Homo sapiens: one gene and its partners. The protein of the gene in region 2 purifies or fractionates together with the protein of the main gene of each other region. This does not show direct contact. Each region holds a gene or a part of one and is shown on either strand. Other genes may lie near its edges.

Region 1 (7,048 bases), on a different chromosome or scaffold from region 2:
TACATACATTTTAATTGAATAATATATTTGGAACAGTGTATTTGGATTAGAGTAGGTAAATATTTTTAATTTAAAATAGTTCAAACCCAGAAAGAGACCTTTTAGATTTTTTGCTAACATACTATAGAAAAGATAATTTTTGATGTCAAATATACCAATGTATTTATTATGCCATCCTATTAGCTGCTTTAAAAAATCACTTTTCTACATAATGCCTATTTTGAAGGTCCAAAACTATAGAATTAGCTTAATGCAGATTATTTGTCCCATGGCGTAATGGCATAAACACTCCACAAATGTATTAAGACATGGCAAATAACATAGAGTATGTGATTTCTTCTGAGTTTATTAGCAAATATTAAATAAGATTATCCTTGTTATAAAGTAATACACAACAAGGGCTGTAAAATCTAATTACACCTCAGAGAATATGTAAATTTAATGGAATAAAATATTGTGGCATTCCTTTGTTAGCTAAAGATAGGTACTGATAGCCACTATAATTAATCTAAAAATGATTACCTTGGTGAACATAGAAAAAGTATGCTATCTGCTTCAGGTAAGTAGATCATTTGACCCTTGAGACGTAAGCAGCTGATCTCAGTCCCAGTCAGTTCATCCTCACATTCTAATTTCTCCACATCCAACAATCCTTCCTTGAAAAGGCAAGATACAACCATTAATGAATGCCTTTCTCCCTACCTAAGAATTCAGCAACAAGGACACGCATATCTCATTTCCCACCAAACCACAAAGCAGAATAAGTGCATCATTAGAACAGGAGAGGGCCTTCTGTCAGAGTTCTGCCTGTAATAAGCCTAGTGGCTGCCTTGCAACACTGCAGAAAAGTGACTGTCCCGTCTGAATTCAGGACAGTAACTGTGCTACTCTTCACATAATTATTTCAAGCTTTTGTGAATCTTTTTTATCCCCCTGATTTTCCGGTATGGTTCCAACATACATTACCAGACTCTCAAAGAATAAGCCAAGCCTCCCCATTCTCCCACCCTGTATTCATAGAGCAGCTGCAAACAGTCAGTTCCAAATACAGAAAGGATTCAATGGGTACTCTAGGAAAATGACTTTTGCTGTATCTATCCCAAGAACAGAAACCGTGAGATCCCAGCACTATCTAAATTATCAACTGTGTGAATATTTCATCACTTTTATTCACCCACAAAAACGCTACTAAGAACAATAGACAATTTAAGAAAGAATAAATAAGTGGTTTTGAGTGAAGTTCCAAAAAAAAAAATCCTTTTTAGTTCTGATTTCTAAAATAAGGCACTGTAGCTGTACAGGGAGTAAAAGATGTTGGTTTTTTGATGTGAAACAAGGCCGTCTCAGAAAGACAGTCTCTAAAATTTACCTCTGTTAATTTTAATCAGTTGATAGAGTTCCACTGCTCCTCAGGCAAACCAAAAATCAATGTTATTGCCTTTTAAATAGATCTTCCTTTGAGGTCTGGGTTTTATCTCTCTATACTTTCTCAGAGAATGTGATAATTTTCCCCCCTGAATACTTCTAATTTGTGACATACCTTTCTCACATTTAATGAAATAATATCTTGATTACCTTGCTTCTCAATACAAAAACAGTATTGATGTGAGAAAGGATCCCATGGAAACTAATATCAATATGAGGACGAACCAGCGAGAAGACAGACAGAAGGCTGCAATTCCCAGGCTGGAGCTAAAATATAGATAGAGAGCAAAGAGTATCACATCAGTTAAAATAGTTTTTATACTTTGATATTAATCGCTTGATTAAATCAGCTCAGTTATATTTAAAACTAGAAAATTATAATTATTATAATTCAAGGGAAACTTAGCTGAACTATCAACTCAAATCTCAATCTATACAACTCAGTGATTAAATGGACATTAAATAGTTACAAGAACATGAAATCTGATATGGATTCAGATGACTAATATTCAAATGTAAGCTAGCATAAATTTACAATGCATTTTCAGAAGGAGAAAAAATGAAAATTTATCTTTTAAAATGTACAGTGTTATGTTAAATGTGTATGGCTTGAAATGAAATTAAAATACCAAAAACATGAGCAAACCCTCTCTTAATATTTATCTAGAGGGCTAAAAGTGAAAACAATAGGTAACACTGATTGATTGCTTACAATGAACTAAGTATTTTTCATATGCTTTCTATTCTCATGCCAGAACAAAGAGAAACAGGCTGAGAGAAGTGAAGTAATAAGTTCAAGGTCATACAGTAAGGGACAGGTAGAGTCAATACCAGAGCCAGGACAGCACACTACTCTGCTTCCATTTCACCTGATCCAACTGGGCTAATCCTGAATTTTCAAGTCTCTTTAATTACAAGCAAAAAGTATCTCTAAACGTATGCCATATACAACTCCAAAAGTTAGTATTTAAGAAAAAAAGAGTAAGCATAAAGGATTTTACCAATGGATCTGTCATAGAAGTCAACAGCAGTTTCTCATCATCATCCCAACTGCTTCCTTTGATGCTTTTTCTACTGAATCCATCATCATCTCTATCATTTTGTGTTTTAGTTCTTTTTAAAATCCCCCCTTTTCCCTTAACACCATCAATAGTTGATTTTTAAAGCTATTTACAGATGGTAGATATCCAATGAATATTTATTCAGTGAATAAATAAACATGTGAAAGGTGACTGTTACTAAAAAGTTACCCATTTTTTTTCACTGTAACAAGTATACTATTCTTACATAACATTCCTACTGTTTCTGTATGTGATTATTATAAAAAAATAGTTGTCCTAGGGAAAGTTGTGGTATGCTCAAATACACTTAGTTCACAATTAAACAATTTGTGTAACTTACAATAAACTGCATATTACCTAATACATAGTCAGAGGGTTAAATGAATGGATGGCTGCCTGTAACAATAGTATTTCTATGGGCTTTTGTCTCAGGCCCCAAGGAAGTATGCTGTCATTTTACCTGGGGGAGAACTCTGTATATAGCATTGCCACACTGAGTGACCACTAGGTCCCGGTCAAATATTATATGAAAAGGAAAAGCTTTGCAGAATGTATATGGGCTGATGCGTGATTCCTGGGTACCATTTTCTTCAAATCTGTCAAGATCTTCATAAAAATCCTCTTCTTTTGACTCTTTTTCTTCAATTAAAAATTGAGTATGATCACATTCTTCATTTCTTTGCTGAATAACCTGGATATCAAAGGGGGAAATGGCATGAATTGTCTTCATTTCAGTTTAATAAAAATACCTAAATATAAAAAATGAGTTATGAATACTGCATTTAGAAGATTAATTACAAAAATTCAAAACATATATGCAAATACTCCATATGTCTAAAATAGGAAAATATTTCTGGACTTTGATCTATAAAATTTGAAGATTGAATAATCATTGTAAAATTACAAATCTGGTATCAGTTCCCCAGTATCCTATATGGTCTCTTTGGTAGAATTAGAAAAAAAAAGCACTTGTGGGCTCTGCCTTCTTAGCCAAGCACACTTGTATAGTGAACAACCTGAAAGCCAGCTAAAAGCAAGCTAGCACTATCAAATAAGATTACAATACTATTTTAAAACAATGGGAAATAAAATGATAGAGATTCATATTCAAAAATAAATGCAATGTCATTTTTAACCATCAACTATCAAATACATAAAGTTACAATACCAGGCCAGGTGCAGTGGCTCACGCCTGTAATCCTAGCACTTTGGGAGGGTGGGGCGGACAGGTCACCTGAGGTCAGGAGTTTGAAACCAGCCTGGCCAACATGGCAAAACCCCATCTCTACTAAAAATACAAAAATTAGCCAGGCGCAGTGGTGGGTGCCTATAATCCCAGCTACTCGGGAAGCTGAGGCAGTAGAATTGCTTGAACCTGGGGAGGCAGAGGTTGTAGTGAGACGAGATCATGCCATTGCATTCCAGCCTGGGCGACAGAACGAGACTCTGTCTCAAAAAAAGAAAAAAAAGTTACAATATTAAATTGGGTAAGGTACTGAAAAAGAGGCATCTCAAATACCACTGATGAGGGGGTATTTTGATTAATCTTTCTGAAGGATAAATTGACAATAGGCATAAAAATTCCTTAAAATTTTGTGGATTCTTTGATTTAATTGCAAATCTAGGAATTCATTCTAAAGAAGTAATCGTAATTGTGAGCTAATATCTATAATGTAAAAAAATCCTACTTTTCTAAAGTATTATTCACAGGCAAATACATTATTAAAGTATAGATTTTCCTCTTCTTTTTGGGTTAAGAAATTGCAAGCAATGAGCCCTCTTACAAAGGGAAAACTCGATCTCAACGGCAACCAGACCCAAAACAGAAAAAGTTTGGGACAACATTTCTTCAGTTACAGCTAAATAAAAACAAAATGTTGTTCATTTTTCTTTTCTTTTTTTTTTTTCAGGAGTACCCTGTCGCATTCTCTGCAATTTTTAAAAACAAATCACAATAACTATAGATGCTATTGTATATATTCTTTTAGATATATTTTGTAGCAAAACTGGGATGTTACTACCTCACTGTCAGAATAACTTACTATACTGGTTAAATATTAGTATCCTTATTTATAATTTGAAAATTTTACCACATTAAGGTTGATTTCCCTAACTCATAGACAAGGCAAGAGAGTCAACCTTAAATGACAGGCCTACTTTTGATGTTCTACTCTGTTTCTATTTAACTAGAGAAATTGAATTATATGTATCCTAAACTTATGAATTAATTATTCAATTCTAATTTTTTTGCTTTGATCAAACTGGCAAAACAAATAGCTTTTCTAATCATATTTTTAACTTCTCATTGGTATATCACTTTATGACATGATCTAGTATTAACCATGTGGTTCAAATTGTCTGGTATCTCTGGACCTGATAAACTTAATGTGAGAATCCCTCGAGAAGTCAAAACAGTGCTTTTGAAAAAATTAAACACATAAAATATACCTATAAAATGCAAATATTTCAGAAGTTCATATTGAAGCACTTGAATAAATGGTCAGAAGAGAATTTAAATATTTTATAAAGTGAACCATATAATTAAGTAAATACTTGAATTTCATACAGTTTGCTAAAGCCATCAATCTCCCATGCCAAAGATTCTAATACCACAGTAATAGTAGTTTCCAAGTGTGTCCTAATTTGTGTTTCTTTCTGAAGTTTCTACGAACCTACCTCTTTCTCAGTCTGGTTAAATAAAAATAAAACCAACAGTGCATACAATATGCATATACGTTCACTCAGTATAGATGCTGTGTTTTTTTTTGTTTTTCGTTTTGTTTTGCTTTATTTTTTTTTTTTTCTCTATTTTTTTGATAATGGAGTCTCACCCTGTCAACCAGACTGGAGTGCAGTGGCGAAATTTCGGCTCACTGCAACCTGTGCCTCCCGGGTTCAAGCGATTCTTCTGCCTCAGCCTCCCGAGTAGCTGGGATTATAGGCGCCCGCCACCACGCCTGGCTATTTTTTTAGTATTTTTAGTAGAGACGGGGTTTCACCGTGTTAGCCAGGATGGTCTCAATCTCCTGACCTCGTGATCCCCCCGCCTTGGCCTCCCAAAGTGCTAGGATTACAGGCGTGAGCCACTGCGCCCAGGCGATACTGTTAGTTTAATGTCAAGAACAAAAGACTGGCCGGGCGCGGTGGCTCACGCCTGTAATCCCAGCACTTTGGAAGGCCGAGCCGGGCGGATCATGAGGTCAGGAGAGAGAGACCATCCTGGCTAACACGGTGAAACCCCGTCTCTACTAAAAATACAAAAAAATTAGCCGGGCGTGGTGGTGGGGGCCTGTAGTCCCAGCTACTTGGGAGGCTGAGGCAGGAGAATGGCGTGAACCCGGGAGGTGGAGCTTGCAGTGAGCGGAGATCGCGCCACTGCACTCCAGCCTGGGAGACAGAGTGAGACTCTGTCTCAAAAAAAAAAAAAGATTGGAAATGTGAGGTATATACTATTTTGATTGAATACCAGTGAGATTCCCAATCATGGATGAATTGTGATACTTTACCCAAGGCTTTAATTTTTAAATGTCTGCATTTGATAATGCCATGTTATACACAGTCCTACTTTCTATTAGGTTGGTGCAACAGTAATCGTGGTTTCCGCCATTACTAATGGTTGTAGAAAACTAACGATGCACCTGGAAATCACCAAAAGGTGCCACGTAAGAACTAACACCAACTTCTGAAAGAAAGAAAACCATGAACTCTAACATAACTTTACTAGATTAAATATGTGGAATATCTTTCTAATTTATTTAAATGTTACTATTTTAATTTTGGATAATACTCCACTTAAGGGTTTTAGACCTCCCAAGTGTGTTACAATATATCTATGATCTATAAGAAAGAACTGTCTAATAGGTTTTCTATAAACAAAGAAAGGTTGGAAAAAGGTATCTATCTCCCCACTTTGGCCTCAAGTTTAAAGCTACTGAGAATTGACTCTTGGGTATGAACATGCTGAACACATAAAAAGCAGCCTGACTGGGAGAAACCGTAAGGGCCAGAGGTAAAGAGAAACAGTGGTTCTCTTTGTTGTACGGTTGCCCTATCAGTACCTTGAAATCATCACTCAAAACTAAGAGTGTGTATTATCAATAACAGCACAATTTTTAAAGTACCAGACCTGGCTTCTTTCACCAAGTAACTTGATTAAAAACAAAAACAAAAACAAACACTTTCATTCACAAAATTAGACATTCCAACTATATTTCGGGGCAGACAAAAATCGACAAAGAGAAAATGATCTATAAAATAATACTTAATTTTATATTGCCTTAGAATTTGACTATCCATATTATGGATATTTTGCATGCTGAAACCCACAGCTCAGTCGTCACATATCCTTCTGCTTCCCAGCTGGTGTGTGTTCACAGGGAATGCAAAGTAAATTTCTTGTAGCCTTGAACACTATATAATTAGAAAGAAAAATCTGCTGCCAGAAGGAAAAAAATATCCTGTATAATGCACTCCCAGGCCAAATATAGAAGATTGCTGGTCTTTCCACTGTTTTGGCTTATATATACTTCCAGGGAAGAGCACTAACAGTGATAACTGCAGGT
Region 2 (7,048 bases):
GTCTGCGCGAGAGCGCCATCTCGCTGCCTGACGAGAAGCTGGACCAGCTGACGCTGGCGCTCTTCGAATCGGCCGACGCGGACGGCAACGGGGCCATCACCTTCGAGGAGCTCCGGGACGAGCTGCAGCGCTTCCCCGGAGTCATGGAGAACCTGACCATCAGGTACGGCCGGGTCTCGGGCATTGGCACTGTCCACGGCGGCGTTAGACTCCTGGTCGGAAGTGTGGCAGGAACTCACCGCGGATCCACTCTGCCCTACCCCGCCCTGCCCCGCCCCTCCCCAGTTTAGCCCACTCTTGAGTGTACTGCAGGGCAGCTGTCTTCATTGCCTCCACTTCCTGCAGTGTCTCTGCAGAATCAACTCAAGGTCTGAGGCACCTACTGTGTGCTGAGCACTTTTGCATATACCAGTGCATTTTATAGCAATACTCGTTTTACAAAAGGAAATTACTTCGCCTGAAGTAAGTTGCCTAGGATCACACAAATAATTAACAAAGGTATTTATGCAATAAATGTTTGAGCAGCTTCTATGCAGCAGGCACTGTTCTGATTAATGCAGTGAATGAGGTCTCCACCCTGCTGGGGCTCCATTCCAGACGAAGAGACATGTCATTTACACCAATAAACACACAAACTAGAGAAGCACAAAATTAATAAGTGCTGTGGAGAAAATAAGAGTGTAACAGCAAGACCCAAGTCTGTCCGACTCCAGGCTCTGAATAGAGCCGGTTTTGTAGTTCATTCTTCCTGTGTATTAACTTTTTTTTTTTTTTTTTCTGAGACGGAGTCTCACTCTGTCGCCCAGGCTGGGGTGCAGTGGTATGATCTCGGCTCACCGCAACCTCCGCCTCCCGGGTTCAAGCGATTCTCCTGACTCATCCTCCCGAGTAGCTGGTATTATAGGTGCCAGCCACCACGCCCAGCTAGTTTTTGTATTTTTAGTAGAGACGGGGTTTCGCCATCTTGGCCAGGCTGGTCTCGAACTCCTGACCTCAGGTGATCCGCCCGCCTTGGGTTCACAAAGTGTTGGGATTACAGACGTGAGCCACTGCACTGGGCACCTACCTGCCTATTAACTTTCTTGGGGCTTACTTACCAAAACATATTTCAGATTCTTCCATCCTTTTCGACTGCTTCTTTTAAAATTGGAAAGTAAAGAGAAGTAATAAAAATAGCGGTGGTTGTGGCATTAGGCAGACCGGAGTCCCCTTTCAGCTCCGCGGAGCTGTGCGACTGTGACCAAGCCACTTGACCTCTCTGTTTCCTGGTGTGAAGAAAGCCGGCCTGCTTGCCAGACTTGGTCGGCCATAGCTTGAAGGGGGTCTTTAAGTTAAGACACAGGTGGTCCCCGCCCCACCGCTCGCCTCTGAGCGGAACCCGCCTCTCTCGCAGCGCTGCCCACTGGCTGACGGCCCCCGCCCCCCGCCCACGCCCGCGCCGGCCGCGCCAGCTGACCCGCGCCTACTGGCACAACCACCGCAGCCAGCTGTTCTGCCTGGCCACCTATGCAGGCCTCCACGTGCTGCTCTTCGGGCTGGCGGCCAGCGCGCACCGGGACCTCGGCGCCAGCGTCATGGTGGCCAAGGGCTGCGGCCAGTGCCTCAACTTCGACTGCAGCTTCATCGCGGTAGGCTCTGCCAGCACACGGTGCTCTGAAAATGTTAATTAGGAGCCGAGGTGGGCTCCTCCTAGACAGAGCGACCCACAGAGGACACCTGGAATGCCAGGGCAGGGTGGCACCTTAGAAATCAGCTGGGCCAACGCTCAGAGTTGGAGGACGCCGCCCAGAGAGGGACAGTAGCTTGTCCACAGTCACACAGCCAGTAAATAATAACATAACTGGCATTTTTGTGCACTATGCACCAGGCACGGTGCTGAGCACGCTCCATTTGATCTTCACAACTCCCCTATAGTGGACCCCTGTGCAGGAGCACCTTCAAGAGGAAACCCTAGAAGAGGCTTTGAATACCAGACCATGGAGTTGGAATGTGGTTCTCTGGCTCATGGATGAGGCCTCTAAGAGGTGTTTTTTTTTTTCTTTCTTTTTTTTCTTTTTTTTTTTTTTTTGAGACGGAATTTTGCTCTTGTTGCCCAGCTGGAATGGCACGATCTCAGCTCACTGCAACTTTTGCCTCCCGGGTTCAAGCGATCCTCCTGCCTCAGCCTCCCCGTAGCTGGAATTACAGGCAACCGCCACCATGCCCAGCTAATTTTTATATTTTTAGTAGAGATGGGGTTTCACCATTTTGGCCAGGCTGGTCTCGAACTCCTGACCTCAGGTGATCCACCCTCCTCGGCCTCCCAAAGTGCTGGGATTATGGGCATGAGCCACCACGCCTGACCTCTAAGAGTTTTTGATCACACAACTCCTACCATTAAAACAAAAGCCCTCTTATGCTTATATGCATGCTCTATTATCATTAGCTAATAGACTTATGGCACAAAGTAACTACAGGGGAAGATTCATCATTGATGAGCAGGGATGCCCATCTCTAGCTCAGATACGCTTCTGGATATGAGCTTCTCATTAGAGTGGGTTTTATAGGTTTTATTTTAAATTTATTTTTATTATTTTTAATTATTAATCTTAATTTTTGTGGGCACATAGTAGGTGTATATATTTATGGGGTACATGGGATGTTTTGATACATGGGATGTTTCGATACATGCAATGTGTAATAATCACATCTTGCAAAATGGGGTACCCATCCCTAAAGTGGGTTTTGTCTTAATGGCTCAACGAGCTAACAAAGACTTCATTCCAGGAGTGGGAGACGTGTGATTCATTTTCTTGGTCACTTGCTCATGTATTACTAACACAACTGTTAATCTGTGGTTTCTCTGCTGGGAAACTTTTAAAGCTACTTGTCCTTCCTGTGAGGGGTAGTTAGCTTAGTTTTGGTAAAGTCAAATACTGTAACCTACAAGTCCACATCCTTGGCAAACATAAATATACTGAAAGCAAATGAGCAATGAGAGAACCCTGGTTAACCACTCTGGATTTGGCTCCTGCAAGGCACCTCGAGAACTAACACAACACGTGCCCATCTGACATATGGACTAAATGAGGGCACCAAGTCAACAGAGATATTTTATTTATTTATTTATTTATTTGAGACATGGTCTTTGTCACCCAGGCTGGAGTGCAGTGGACTGATCATAGGTTGCTGTAACCTCAAACGCCTGGGCTCAAGCAATCCTGGGCTCAAGCAGTCCTCCTGCCTCAGCCCCCTAAGTAGCTAGGATTACAGGTGTGTGCCACCATGCCCAGCTAATTAAACAATTTTTTTTTTCTATAGAGACAGGGGTCTCGCTGTGTTGCCCAGGCTGGTCTCAAACTCCTAGGCTCCAGTGATCCTACTGTCTCAGCCTTCCAAAGTGCTGAGATTAGTGGAGTGAGCCACTGCGCCTGGCCCATATATTAAATATTAGTAAAAGCATAGATGTTTCTCATGTGTTTAGACAAAAATTAATACAAATAGACATTCTGTAACTTTCTCTTCCCGCCACAATTCTGGAGATCCTCCTCTAGAGACCCCAGGTATGAATCCAGGGAAGCAACAAGGCATGGGGGCAGGGGACTTTGGTGAGTGTCCTGTTCAGAAAGCACAGCTAGCTCAGGAGGATGCAGGGAGGTGGCTGGGAAAAGAGGACAAGGCAGACAGAGAGTGAGGCAGGGCTCTCTCCCACTCTGCCTGGCCAGGTGCTGATGCTCAGACGCTGCCTCACCTGGCTGCGGGCCACGTGGCTGGCTCAAGTCCTACCACTGGACCAGAACATCCAGTTCCACCAGCTTATGGGCTACGTGGTAGTGGGGCTGTCCCTCGTGCACACCGTGGCTCACACTGTGAACTTTGGTGAGTGATCTGGGGCAGGGTTGGGTCGGGGAGAAGCTTGAGCAGCCTCAAGCCCAGAATGCAGGGCCCAGCCCCTGTGTGTACTGCCTGCCCAAAGGGCAGAGAAGGGGTGCCCTGGATAAGCCAACGCTCTGGACAAAAGTTTCTGCCCGTGCTAGTATCTGATGGTGCAGGGTGGGGATCCCAATGGGAAGGTGGAGTGGGAAGAGCTGGTCTTGCAGTCACTCAACCTTTCTGAGCTTGTTTCCAGTACTCCAGGCTCAGGCGGAGGCCAGCCCTTTCCAGTTCTGGGAGCTGCTGCTCACCACGAGGCCTGGCATTGGCTGGGTACACGGTTCGGCCTCCCCGACAGGTGTCGCTCTGCTGCTGCTGCTCCTCCTCATGTTCATCTGCTCCAGTTCCTGCATCCGCAGGAGTGGCCACTTTGAGGTGCCCCAGTTGCTGCCCTTTTGCTTCCCCCAAGGCCAGGGTCCTACTTTCATTTCTTTCTGTGTCCCCTCTGATTTACTCCAGAGCCCAGGAAGGTCCCAAGCTGGTCTGCATATTATTTGCATGTGATTTGGGACCTGCTGCTGTGTTCTGCCACTGGACTGTAGTTTATGTCTGCCAAGTGTAGATGTTTTGCTGCGGAAGAGTCTGCCTTTTTGCTGGCTTATCCCTTTAGCCTATTTGGATTAAGTTGGGCTTAAAACAGTACAGGGAGGGGAAGGAACATAGGCTCAGCAGGTTTTGAATCCCCACTCCACTGCTTACTGGTCGCTCAACCTTTCCAAGCCTCAGTTCTCTCATCTGTAAAATGGAGGTGTAATTCTCTATGTTATTTTAGGAATTATAGGCGATAATACATGTAAAACCACTAACTACATCCTAGCACATAGGTGCTCTGAAAATGTTAGTTCCATCTTTGCTTCTGTCTCTCCAGCCTCCTCAAGATGCAGAAAGTCACAGAGGACTTGGTTTGGAGAGCTTGACTATCTTGTGGCCTGACCACATCAGAAATAGACATATACTGAGCACGTACCTACTCTGGGCCAGCAACAAGCCTTTGAAGTAGGAATCAGAATCCTCATTTGACCCATGAGGAATTTCACACTCAGAAAAGTAATGAAATTGCCCAAGATCACAAAGCTTCAGAAGGTGCTAAAATTGTCTTCTGCTATTTCTTCTCCACTCCCAGGAAGCCATTGCTGTCTTTCCTTTCTTCCTTCTGAGAATGGGTCGGGGGTAGCGATACTGATGCTCATGATCCCTGTGGGGGCAGTCCACTCTGCCCAGAACCTCCCCAGGCAGATATTTCAGATGTTTGCCTCTGGTATCAGGAATCTTCCCTTACAGCCTCCTTTGGCCAAGCACCCAGAAAAAGAAGCTTCCCAGCCCCAACATCTTACCCAACTCCATCCCCGGGAGAGAGTCAAGGCTCTGAGCACTGCCCTGGCTTTGAGGATAACCCTGAGTCCTGGCTCTGTTCCACCCCCCAGGCCTTGAGCTCTGGAAGTTGACTGCCCCCCCTACCCCCATAGGTGTTCTATTGGACTCACCTGTCCTACCTCCTCGTGTGGCTTCTGCTCATCTTTCATGGGCCCAACTTCTGGAAGTGGCTGCTGGTGCCTGGAATCTTGTTTTTCCTGGAGAAGGCCATCGGACTGGCAGTGTCCCGCATGGCAGCCGTGTGCATCATGGAAGTCAACCTCCTCCCCTCCAAGGTACAAAGGTGGGGGATGGGGAGGTGCTTTTCCAACTCACCCCAAGGGACAGTTTGTGGGGTGGAGCAGCTGGATACCCTGTCAGACCCCCAAGGAAATAGAGAATAGTGTAGCTGCAGCCCCATTGCTATGGAGGAGAGAAGCAAAATGCAAGACCCAGTCCAGCCCTCCAGGAGGGAAGCTTTAGGAAGATGAATGGCAGGGCAGGCAATAAACCTCTAAAATCCGATTTTGGGGAGAACAGTCTCCTTCAGCTCAGTAAGCGTTTATTAGTGCCTACAGGGTGCCAGGCCCTGAACTAGGTTACAGAGAAATAGAGAAGGTTCTGCACTGTCCTGCTTTCTAGGGGAGCCAGCCCTTTCATTACAGTGCAGGGCTGTGTTGCTGGAGGTATTAAACCCTTTGTCTTTGGGAGGTCAGAAAAAGCTTCAGAATAAGGGAGAAGATGCCATATCAGGGTTTTGAGGGATGAATAAGAGTTTGTTGGATAGAGAAGACAAGGAAGGGTATTGCTGGCAGGAGGAACAGCACAGTAAAGACACAGAATTGTGAAAGGGTATACTGTGCTTGGGGGACCACAGGTAATTTGGCATAGCTGGAGCCAAGTTGCCAGGAGGAAGCCAGAGAGGTGAGGAAGGCCTGATTATGAAGGGCCTCCTGAGCTGGGAGACCAACCCCGCAGGCCATGGGGAACCCCTGAGCACGCTGGGAGGAGATGGTGGTATTAAGCTGTGACCATTAATATTCTAGTTAGATTTCTTTAGTTGCTCTGTGGAAGGTAGCTTGGAGGGGGCTTGTGGGGAGGTTCTTGCAAATACAAAGATGAGAGTTCATGAGGGCCTTGACACTGAGGCAGTGGCCATGGGATGGAGGCAGGTGCACATCACAGAAAGACTCAAGAAGCAACTGGTTATGTTTTGCGGCAACAGAGAGGATGGAGTCTAGGACGTCTCCCAGGTGTCTGAGAAAAGGAAGGCAGTTCTAGGCGGGCTCAGCTCTGGACACACTGCGTTAGAGGACCTGGGAGGCTGAAGAATGAGGCTGTGCTCTGTGTCTAGGCTCTGGCATCCAACAGCCTCAGCTGCATTCAGATCCCACGGTTTCTTACCCAGTGGCCTTGGGAAGTTATTTAACCTCTCTGAGCCTCCTCTTCTTGTCCCTAAAGTAGAGAGAAAATAATATCCACGTCATACAACTGCTGTGAGGCCTAGAGATAACACAGTGCTCCAAAGCAATTGTCTGGAAAGATGTTGTTATCCAAGGAGAGATGCCCATTGATGGTTAGAATGCTAGCCACACTCTGGCTGAAGTTCCAAGAAAGGGCTGGAGTAGCCAGGGAGGCATCACAGGGATACGTCACAGAGGGTCCACTAAAAAGCAGTGCTTACACCCTGAGAGGCAGGGTAAAACCAGGGGCCCCAATTCAGACACAGCCTGGCTGCCCCCTCTAGGATTGTTGCCCACTTCCAGATTGGCAGGTTGGCTGC
Region 3 (7,320 bases), on a different chromosome or scaffold from region 2:
CGCCTCATCTTCTCCCGGAGTCTCTCATGCCGCTCGGGGTCCAGGCCCGGGGTGGAACATCTCGAACTATCTTTGGAGCTCTCACTGCCACTGCTGGCACTGCCCTCCAAGCAGGGGTTGAGGCTGCTGTTTCCTCTGGCTTCGTTCACCATGGCTGGGTTCCTACTGCACAGGGTGGGGCAGGGAGCATCAGGGGGCAGGCAGCCACACCCCCGACACATCAAGACACCTGAGTGGCAGGTTCAAGCCGGAGGCGCTGTATTTCCACACAGGAAGAAGGCCAAAAAAGGTGACACTGCCCCCTCCCAGTGGCTCCATGCTCCTCAGCTATGGCTGTCCGGGCCGCCTCACTCAAAGCCTTGCCCTCCGCTGCTGCCAGGCTCCTTGCATGCAAGGCAGCCCCCACCCGGCACTGCAACATGCTCCTCGGTGACAGCTACCTGATGGAAGGTGGCACAGAGGACCTCACGCTGCCGACCTGCGAGGCCCATATTCCTAGCGAGGGGCAGTAGTGCCCAGCTGGGAGGACCCTGGCTTTTCGATGGTCCATCTCTGTCAGCTCAGGCCCAGAGTGCGTGGGGAGGGAACAGAGGCACCTTCCCCAGCGGGTGTGTTCAACTGGGCGGAGCTGCGACAAAGGAAGAGGCTTGAGCTCCAGCCAGCACAAGGGGGCGGGGGCAAGGCTTCCAGGCGAGGAGGGAGGGCTGAGGCTCTAGTAAGGGGAGGCGGATGGAAGGAGGGGGACTCAGGGGCAGAGACTGCAGGGGTTGGTGGAGATGAGGCCAACAGGCGTTCAGGGATACCAGATCACCCTCCAGAGAAGGAACAGCTCACTCTGGCTGGCTCTGCCTGGAACATCTGTTACTTGAAACAGTTCGTGCACAGGATGGAAGGGGTGAGGGCTTGACTATGCAGCCAGATTTCTCCTGAATTCATGCTACTCCAAAAAGACCGTGTTGTGGGTTAGAACTTGATGCTGGCCATGTTCCAAAAATAGCCAGACCCAAGTTCAGTAAGGGCACGAATTTCTCAGAACAAAAGCTGCCCCATCTGTGCTTGCCTTGCAGGCTGCTCTTCTTACACATCACAGAATTCAATTCAAATCATCACAGTGACCCAGCTACTGGGAAGGCTGAGGCAGAAGGATTGCCTGAGCCCAGGAGTTCAAGGCCAGCCTGGGCAACATAGCGAGACTCCATCTCTTAAAAAAACAAAAAACACACCTGTAATCCCAGCACTTTGGGAGGCCGAGGTGGGTGGATCACCTGAGGCCAGGAGTTTGAGACCAGCCTGGCCAACATGGTGAAATCCCGACTCTACTAAAAATATAAAAATTAGCCAGGTTTGGTGGCGGGCGCCTGTAATCCCAGCTACTCTGGAGGCTGAGGCAGGAGAATCGCTTGAACCCGGAAGGCAGAGGTTGCAGTGAACCAAGATTGTGCCATAGCACTCCAGCCTGGGCGACAAAAGCAAAACTCCATCTCAAAAAAAAAAACAAAAACAAAAAACAGAAACAAGTAATCAGAGCCACCAGGGCACAGACAGGCCAACAGAGGGCATAGGGTCATCTGGCAGTCTGGTTAAGAAAATAAGACAAACACTTAAAAACAAACAAAACACTTGCACAGCAATGGGCAAACACACAGTAGTGAATGGGTGTGTGGTGACATGGCACAACAGAGGAAAGCCCAGGTGAGGTTCATTTCTTTCAGACTGTCCACCACTAACCCTGTGTACCTAACCATTTGGGGTCTTAGACTCTTTTGACAATCTGATTAAATGCACTGCTCCCTTCCCCTGAAATACACACACAGGTGCACAGACTACACGGGGATACATCCAAAGACAAGGAGTTGATTCCAGACTAAGAACCCTGGGCCAAAGCTTTCTCCCTCTAGGGCTGCTCTCTTTCATTCTGACCTCAAACTCCAGATTCTCAGTGGGGATGGCTGTGGGGAGTGAGGAACGGGGGCGGGGGGGAGGAGTAACAGCAAGAGCAGCCAGTTGGCTTTCCTCCAGCGTTTAAGGGCGCACCTCGTTAATTGCTTGCTGGAACAGAACCTAGAGTAGGAGGAAGCTGAACCACCTGTAAACCCTCTGATTTTCAAAGACTTATTGCATTCCTAGTATATGCCACGCATGTGCCATATTTGTAAGCCAACTCCCACGATTTATCCGTTATCAGCTGGACTCCCATAGCACCCTGGGTTGTAACTGTGGGTGAAAAGGCCTGTCTCCTTTCTCTTTCCCCAGTTCCCTGAGACAGGACCGGTGTCCTGCCTGGGGTATCCCCAGAGTTTGGCACACGGTGATAGCCAACATTCACTGAGCGCCAAAGGGCCAGGTGCTGCCACTCTCTCAAAATAAGCCTCTGCCACTTACTGAACAACTAGTCTGCGCCAAGCACTGGGATACTAAGCCTACGACTCCCAGAAAGGTCCCGGCGGACCCCCGTGCGCAGCGGGACGCAGTGGGCGCCAGGGACCGCAGTGCCCCGGGCCCAGCGCTCTTCTCCAGGTGATCGCCGGGGAGGCAGGTTTAAAAGGCAGGAGCCGGAAGCCGTCTCGGCGCCCAGGTGGCCGAGAATCCAGTCACCAGGTCACTGAGTCACCGATGGGGGCGAGGACACGGGCCTGGGCCGGTCAGAGGGGCGGGATCGTCACCCCTGGCTCAGGGGCCCCTCCGTCCAGGCAGGGAGCCAAAGTCAGTCTTCGCTTGAGGGTTGGCGGTCGCTGGAAGTGGTAGCCATTGGGAGTTACACTAATCCCGCGAAGGGTGCGCAAGGGAGGCGGCAGCCCCCCCCAAGAAGAGAGGCAGGCCGGCCTCCAGCGCTCCCCGCCCACAAGCACGTCCTTGCCCCCGGGAGGTTGTTTGCCGGCTCCAGGATCTCCCTCCCGGCGACCCCGGCCTCGCCGTCACTCACCCTCCAGTCCCGGGTGACTCAGAACGCTCGGCCGCCGGCCGCACCACTGTGGCCGCTGCAGGGGCGGGGAACGCAGTGAAGGGGCGCGGCGCAGGTGTCAGGTTGCTGGAGAGGCGGGCCTACAGGGCGGAAACCACCGGCGCGGGTGACCGGAAGCCCCGCCCCCAACATGGCCGTGCCCACAGGTCTCGTTGGAGGCCGTGCCTTTATCGTCATGTGACGCGAGTCCTCGCCCCACCCGTCTGCAGCCACTCCTGGTCTCAGTCCCAGAGCTCGAGAGGGCCACGTGACCGTCCCGGGGCCAGTCACGTGAGGCGCAGATCCTGGCTGGGAGGGGGTTGGTAGAGGGGTCCAGAGTGGCAGTAAAGGAGGAAGATGGCGGGGTGCAGGGGGTCTCTGTGCTGCTGCTGCAGGTGGTGCTGCTGCTGCGGTGAGCGTGAGACCCGCACCCCCGAGGAGCTGGTAAGAAGCCGGCGGAGTCGGCCTGGGGAGGGGGCGGTTGCTAAGGGACTGAGAGAGGCGTTGCCGGGGGTGGGGCCGGGCCAATCTGGGCCCGCAGGTGGCAGCGGGTGGGGCCTGGGGACCGCAGCCAGGGCTCTCGAAGCGTCTACCCTGCTTCACGTGCCTAAGTCTGGGGTCTTTTCTCATAACCCCTCCTGGAATCTGAGGGAGAATCCAGGCCAGCTCCAGTAAATCCCACCCATGTTTCCTTTTATTTCCATCTGAAAAGAGTTTGGAATGAAACAAGCGTTTTCAGAATGAGCTTCCTCACAGGACTTTGTGCTTATCATGCTGCTGTTTTAGCTTCTCCAGTCCTTTCTCACTCTATCCCTCACCCTTTCTGGGTCACTGACAGTCCAGCTTCCCCCTGCAAAGCATCCTGGGAAAACTTGAGTTGTGTTCCCAGAGTTGACAAGTCCTTTCTGATTTCAGATACGTCACACTGTCAAATGGAACCTGCATTTTTACCCCCCTTTTCAGCTGGCGTTGGACATCTTTGAGGTGTCCTGAAGAGGAGGGTGGTTATTTGGAGACTATCAGTGGAAATGAAGAGCTCAGCTGATGGCTGTAGATCCTCACCCACATGGTCCCTCACCCCTGAAAGGTTTTTTTTGAGGGCTGGTTCCTATTTGATAATGGCTCCAGATGATTTAGAAGCTAGCCACTGATTTCAGTAAATACTTCTGCCTCCTTCCACTCCTAACCACTAAAAAAGGCTCCCTCTGCGGATCTGTTTTTCTAGACCATCCTTGGAGAAACACAGGAGGAGGAGGATGAGATTCTTCCAAGGAAAGACTATGAGGTGAGCTCCTTTGATACTGCTTGGGCAACTAAAGTAGTGAGTGGCCTGGTCACTTCAGGCCGAAGCATTATGATTCCAACCAGAGATGCTCTTTGACCTTCTGTCCCAGGGAGTGAGTGGGTAAGAGAACTTCCTTCTAGGAAAGAGACTGTTTAGCAAGCCCTTTTCTCACCTTAACCCCAAAACAAGGTCTGGTGTTTTTACACGTTTATAAATCTGTGGCACCTTAACCTGGATAGAGTATGTATTTGCCATTAAACTGTTTGCTTTTACAGCTTACAGAGAGACTTAGAGTGAAAGGCACTGGCAGGCAGTATGTGCCCCTAACAGGTGTGTGCTTATAAACTGTTAAGGAGGCCTTGCTTCTCTTCTAGGAGAGCTTGCTTTTCAGATATTTTCTTGCTCAAGCAGCTTCTCTCTGACATGTTCTTGATTAAGTTCCACCTTTCATGTATGGGATTCTTAGAGTATGTGTTTTTAGTAAAGCCAACACTGCTGGGGTGAAACAACATGCGTGACTTTTTATCATTAAATTCTTAAACGTAATAAAGAAGGTAGAGAAAAGCCTATAACTCCATTCATTAAAAGATGACTGTTAACACCTTACTAAGTATCTTTCTACATCCTTACCCATGCTTTTATATACATGATACATGCTTTTTTTAAGTAACAAAAATGAGATTCCACTAAATCATCTATTTTAACCTGTCCCACTCACCCCCTTTATTATACTTTTTGTATCATTAGGTAATTTTCCACAACCTTTTCTTTTTTTTGACAGAGTCTCACTCTTCCATAAATTCTTCATGCTGTAGAATTTAGTGTCAGCGTTAGGATTTGTAGCACTTTTTTGTTTAACTTTTATTATGAAGGATTTCAACTATATGCAAAAACAGAATAATCTGTTGAAACCCCTTGTCCTCATCACACAGCTTCCACAGTGATTTAGCTCAAGCCCAGTCTTCTTTTGTCTGTGCTTTCGTTATCCACTTCTCCTTTCTCATATTATTATTTTTTATTGTATGTGTGTGTGTGTTTGTGTGTGTGTGTGTGTGTGTGTGTGTGTGTGTGTGTGTGTGTTTTAAAGTAAAGACAGTCTCCCTATGTTGCCCAGGCTGTTCTCGAACTCCTTGACACCAGCGATCCTCCCATGTCAGCCTCCCAAAGTTCTGGGATTACAGTCATGATCTACCATACCTGGCCGCCCTTCCCATGTTATTTTGAAAGAAATTCTGTACATCATATTATTTCACCCATAATTCTATATGCATCTCTAATGGATAAGGACTTTTAAAAAGCATAACCCAATACTATTACCACATCTAAAAAATTAGGAATTTCTTGATATCAAATATCTACTGTCCAGATTTTCCAGTTTTCTTGTAAATGTCATATGTATTTTAACTTTATTTGAATTAGGTTCCAAAAGTCCTTTTTTATTTGTTTGATAAATCTGTTAAATCTCTTTTAATCTGTAGCTTCTTCCTTCATCTTTTTTTTTTTTTTGTAAGTTATTTGACAACATAATTAGGACCTGGGATTTTCTACTGTCTAGATTTTGCCATTTGGAGCCGTTTGTATAGTTTAATATGCTACTCTGATGGGACTGCTTTGAATGAACCAAAAAGCACTGTATCCACTGCTGTGTTTTGTTCTATTTCTTTTTTTTTCTTTTTTTTAAATTTGAGATGGAGTCTCACTCTTAGTGCCCAGGTTGGAGTGCAATGGCTCGATCTCAGCTCACTGCAACCTCCACCCCACCCTAGGTTCAAGCGGTTCTTCTGCCCCAGCCTCCCGAGTAGATGGGATTACAGGCGCCCACCACCATGCCCGGCTAATTTTTGTATTTTTAGTAGAGATAGGGTTTCACCATGTTGGCCAGGCTGGTCTCGAACTCCTGACCTCAGGTGATACTGCTTCGGTCTCCCAGAGTGCTGGGATTACAGGTATGAGCCACTATACCTGGCCATTTTCTTCTGTTTCGTAAGTATTTGTTTTCTTGTACATAGTTGAGAAGTTTGCAGGAATTAGTATAAGATACTCCATATTGTTCTGTCACCTTGCACTCCCTCACTGAACCCTGTTACATCATCCTGACTGTATCACCAGGACTGAGACTGTCTCACAGCCTTCATCCTACTTCTAGGAGCTCACCAAGGCTTCCCCATTGACACCCAGGCTCCCTCACCCCTTCTACTAAATTGTACTTACATTTGTAATGTGCTTGCCTTCAGCTGATATGCATATTCATGTAAATTTTTGTTGTTCTTGTCATTGTTTGAGACAGAGTCTCACTCTGTCGCCCAGGCTGGAATGCAGTGGTACGGTCTTGGATCACTGCGACCTCCACCCCCGCCTCTGAGTTCAAGCTGTTCTCCTACCTCAGCCTCCCAAGTAGCTGGGACTACATGCATACACCACCATGCCTGGCTAAGTTTTGTATTTTTAGTAGAGATGGGGTTTCACCATGTTGGTCAGGCTGGTCTTGAACTCCTGACCTCAGGTGATCCACCCACCTCAGCCTCCCAAAGTACTGGGATTACAAGCGTGAGCCACCACGCGTGGCCATATTCATGTACATTTCATGGGTTAATGTTCTTTTGATATTGGTCATTGATATTTCTCAACCATCTTCAAGAATGAGCTTCTTGAGAGCACTTGCTTTGTGTAAGAACAAATTCAGGCACTTAAACAGAAAAGTCTGGATTTTATTTATTCAATAAATAAATCAACTTGACACAAAAAGTATAATAAAGAGGGGAGTGAGTGGGACAGGTTAAAATAGTTGATTTAGTGGAATCTCATTTTTGTTATTTAAAACACGTGTTAAAAGCATGTGTATAAAAACGTGGGTAAGGATGTAGAAGGATATTTAGTAAGGTATTAATAGTCATATTTTAATGAATGGAGTTATAGGGTTTTCTCTACCTTGATAGTCAGTCAACTAGAAAACCCTTCTGTTGAATATCTTTCTAAAAAGTGCCCCTTCTTCCTGTCTCAGGAAGAGTTCATTGCACATATTTGACTCTTTATTTGATAAATTTAGGGTCTTACAAAATGTTAGAATCCCATTTTGACATCCATTCTCATTATA
Region 4 (3,297 bases), on a different chromosome or scaffold from region 2:
TGGTCCTCAGGTCCTTAAGTGGCCAAAACCAGGAGTAGGAAGGAGGCTGAACTTCAGCTTCCTAGCCACAAGCCACAGACAGGGACCGGCACCTGGAAGCTGCATGGTTCTTTGTAAATATTCCACAGCCAATTTCCTTTCAAAGACAGTGAGGCACACTACACAAAACTCTAAATTAGTCTACTTTTTTTTTGGTTTGTGTTTGAGACAGAGTTTTGCTCTTGTTGCCCAGGCTGGAGTGCAATGGCACGATCTTGGCTCACTGCAACCTCCGCCCCCCGGGTTCAAGTGATTCTCCTGCCTCAGCCTCCCGAGTAGCCGGGATTACAGATGCCTACCACCACGCCTGGCTAATTTTTGTATTTTTAGTAGACACGGGGTTTGCTATGTTGGTCAGGCTGGTCTCGAACTCCTGACCTCAGGTGATCCACCCACCTCCGCCTCCCAAAGTGTCGGGATTACAGGCGTGAGCCACCGCACCCAGCCTCAAATTAGTCCACTTTTAAGGACAGCAGCTGGCTTCAGTTTACTCATGTATTAGCTCTGCTATAGTAACAACCAACCCCTAAATCTCACTGCTTACTACAGCAAACATTGCTCTCTCATTGCTGTGACACTCAGTGGCTGCAGGCCAGCTGCTGTAGCTCGGCTCCATGGAACGGCTCCTCTGTGGGAAATGTGTTCTCACAGCAGAGGGAAGAGCACAGGCCAACCACACATGACTCTTCAGGCTTCTGTCAGACGCAGGACAGCTCATGCCTGTGCATATCCCTCTGCATTGGGAGCAGGGAAGTACACTCTCCCGGGGGGATGGGGTGGGGGCACTGCAAGAAGTCACACAGCTACAAGTCAGGATGGATAAACTCCTCTTAGGAATGGGGCAACAAACAGCTGCAGACAAAAATATACTCTGTAACAACCCAACATGCTAGAAGATTTTCCAGTTTAAAAGACACAAAATCCTAAATGTCAAAACTGCAGAGGAACTCAAGAGGCCACTGTCCAAAGTCTGTCACAGTCCTCCATATGGCAAAGATGAAGAAAATTGGCAATCTTTTTAGGGGTACCAAGGATCTGAGTTTGTACGGTCTTTATAAATGCAGAGCAAGATGTGGCTTTCCTGCCCCCATTTCACCTCAAGGCATCTTCAGCAACCCCACATGGCTTCCCTCTGTGCGCATGAAATAACTTGAGGCCAGGGTCTCTCAGCTTTAAAGCCTTGGAATCCTATGCATTGTTTGTTTGTGTGTAGATGTGCAGTTTGAGGGGTAGCTTCTCTAAGGTGTCAAACTCCACAAAAGTTCAGAATCATGTCACTGGATCCTGAGTCCATCTCCACAGACCAGGGTGCCGCTCAGGTCAGTTGCTGTGGTAACTGCAGCAGATGGTCCCTTTAGCGATGGAGTCCAAGGACATCATGGCCAAGACCCAGAGTTTTATATCAACTGAGGAAAGTGAAGACCAGCCAGAGAGGCTGCAGTTTAGGGAAGCCAGAGGCTCCTCCCCCACCACGATGCCAGGAAGGACTATCCCCAGGGTGACGGAAAGAAAGCACTGGACTCCAGCAGTATGTCCAGCTGATTCAGGTGTGCTAGGTTCCCAGCAGAGGAGGGTAAGGGAGGAGATCCAGGGGCCCTGGCTTAGTCATCGTATCTGGTACACCTTTCTCCCCCGGAGAAAATTCTTGCAAAAAGGAGAGGATCCTACACAGACCAAAAATGCTGGTGTCAGGGCTTTTACAAAGTACCTGCCGTGAACACAACAAAAGAGAGGGTGTTAATTTAATTACAATCTTAACCATCCATGCACCTTCCTAACAACATGCAAGGTGAGCCTCTGGATGGGAGTCAACATGAAAATGCAAGTTTAGCACAGTTATGTGGTTGTTCATAAATCTGGCAAATTAGCATGACATTCTCATCCTTACAACCTAGCCAGAACCTTTAGGCCAGTCCTCTGGCATCATGCATGTCTGTGGCTAAATATGAAATAAAAATATAAAGCATGGTTTTATTCATTCATTCAACATTCAGTGGTAAGCCAGGCCCTGTGCTGAAAACACAGAGATTAAAAAACCAACACCCACACACCATCATCTTTGTTCTCAAATTCAGTCCTGGAGGGGAGGGAGATGAGGAACCAATTAATGACAGCAAGGCACAACTGCAGAAGCATTTGTGAGGCGCAGCATTATCCCAAGGAGGCACGATTCCCTCTATGAGGAAGGGAATCAAAAAAGGCTTCCTGGAAGATGCCATGTCTGAACTTGGCTTTAATTTGGGGAAGGGGTGGTGATGGGGGTTGGGGAGCAAAAGCCAGGAGGTGCAAGTAACCAGAATGTTTGCTGTGGCTAGGGCACAAAGCAAAAGGAGTCAGGCAGGCTAGAGAGGCAGGGAGGGCTTTGGCCTCCCAGGGATAGGGGTGTTGTATTACTCAGTGGGCCTGCTTTGGGACAGAGGGCCTATTTCGTGGCTCCACCCAGTTTAGGGTCTGAAGTTGCCAGAAACCAGTCCTGGGTAGGCTCTTGCCTATGGTAATAATTTTAAAGGTAGTAACTTCCAACAGCATTTACATTTTCTGAGAAGCATGAAACGGGTTTCCTCCAAGCATCGGTCTGCTTTCTATTTAGATTTCTCCTCTGGGGTAGGGCAGAACTCAGGCCTTTAAAGAATTCTGGGTAATTTGCTAACAACTGAGAAAATGAGCAGCTAAAAATGTGTCCAAAAACTAGAAGAAGAGAGATTTGGGACCAGAGCAAAACACCACCAAAGGTATCAATCAGATCTGGAAAAACCTTTCCTTCCTGCCTACCAAGCCAAAGCATTAAGACTAGCTGGACACCCCTATCACATCACTCAACACTACACCAGCTCCCATCCAATCTACCTCCTAAACCTCTAATCCACCTCCTCCTACTTCAGGCCTCACCACTGAACAGTACACTTCAAATCTTTACATTACTCTGTAATTTTTTTGGGTAGTGGGAGGAGGGGGTCTCACTCTCACCTAGGCTGGAGTGCAGTGGTGTGATCATAGCTCACTGCAGCCTTGAAATGCTGGGCTCAAGCAATCTTCCTGCCTCAGCCTCCCAAATAGCGAGGACTACAGGTGCACAACACCATAAAAAAGATTTCTATAGAGACGGGATCTCGCTGTGTTTCTCAGGATGATCTCTAACTTCTGAGCTCAGGTGATCCTCATGCCTTAGCCTCCCAAAATGCTGGAATTATAGGTATGAGCCACTGTACCCGGCCTATTCTGTACATCTTTTAAAATCTTTTTAATTTTTAAAAATCA

What was found.
Region 1: the proteins of NOX5 (region 2) and GUCY1B1 purify together in Homo sapiens (affinity purification with mass spectrometry, with the first as the bait; 2 studies listed by BioGRID). This does not show direct contact.
Region 3: the proteins of NOX5 (region 2) and MTHFR purify together in Homo sapiens (affinity purification with mass spectrometry, with the first as the bait; 2 studies listed by BioGRID). This does not show direct contact.
Region 4: the proteins of NOX5 (region 2) and TTC4 purify together in Homo sapiens (affinity purification with mass spectrometry, with the first as the bait; 2 studies listed by BioGRID). This does not show direct contact.

Annotation. Positions count from the first base shown.
Region 1 is NC_000004.12:155,789,985-155,797,032, reverse strand, and holds part of GUCY1B1 (guanylate cyclase soluble subunit beta-1), read right to left. Parts: intron 3,178-7,048; coding exon 2,947-3,177; intron 1,693-2,946; coding exon 1,576-1,692; intron 657-1,575; coding exon 523-656; intron 1-522. UniProt on the Homo sapiens protein: Mediates responses to nitric oxide (NO) by catalyzing the biosynthesis of the signaling molecule cGMP.
Region 2 is NC_000015.10:69,031,650-69,038,697, forward strand, and holds part of NOX5 (NADPH oxidase 5), read left to right. Parts: coding exon 1-163; intron 164-1,393; coding exon 1,394-1,628; intron 1,629-3,704; coding exon 3,705-3,858; intron 3,859-4,108; coding exon 4,109-4,287; intron 4,288-5,378; coding exon 5,379-5,561; intron 5,562-7,048. Other genes in the region: SPESP1-NOX5 readthrough, read left to right, coding at 1-163, 1,394-1,628, 3,705-3,858, 4,109-4,287, 5,379-5,561. UniProt on the Homo sapiens protein: Calcium-dependent NADPH oxidase that catalyzes the generation of superoxide from molecular oxygen utilizing NADPH as an electron donor. May play a role in cell growth and apoptosis.
Region 3 is NC_000001.11:11,802,965-11,810,284, forward strand, and holds the start of MTHFR (methylenetetrahydrofolate reductase (NADPH)), read right to left. Parts: upstream 3,001-7,320; 5' UTR 2,924-3,000; exon of another isoform or gene 2,383-2,923; intron 574-2,382; exon of another isoform or gene 551-573; coding exon of another isoform or gene 441-550; intron 166-440; coding exon of another isoform or gene 153-165; coding exon 1-152. Other genes in the region: CLCN6 (H(+)/Cl(-) exchange transporter 6), read left to right, coding at 3,299-3,385, 4,167-4,226. UniProt on the Homo sapiens protein: Catalyzes the conversion of 5,10-methylenetetrahydrofolate to 5-methyltetrahydrofolate, a cosubstrate for homocysteine remethylation to methionine. Represents a key regulatory connection between the folate and methionine cycles.
Region 4 is NC_000001.11:54,739,861-54,743,157, reverse strand, and holds the end of TTC4 (tetratricopeptide repeat protein 4), read right to left. Parts: intron 1,748-3,297; coding exon 1,645-1,747; 3' UTR 501-1,644; downstream 1-500.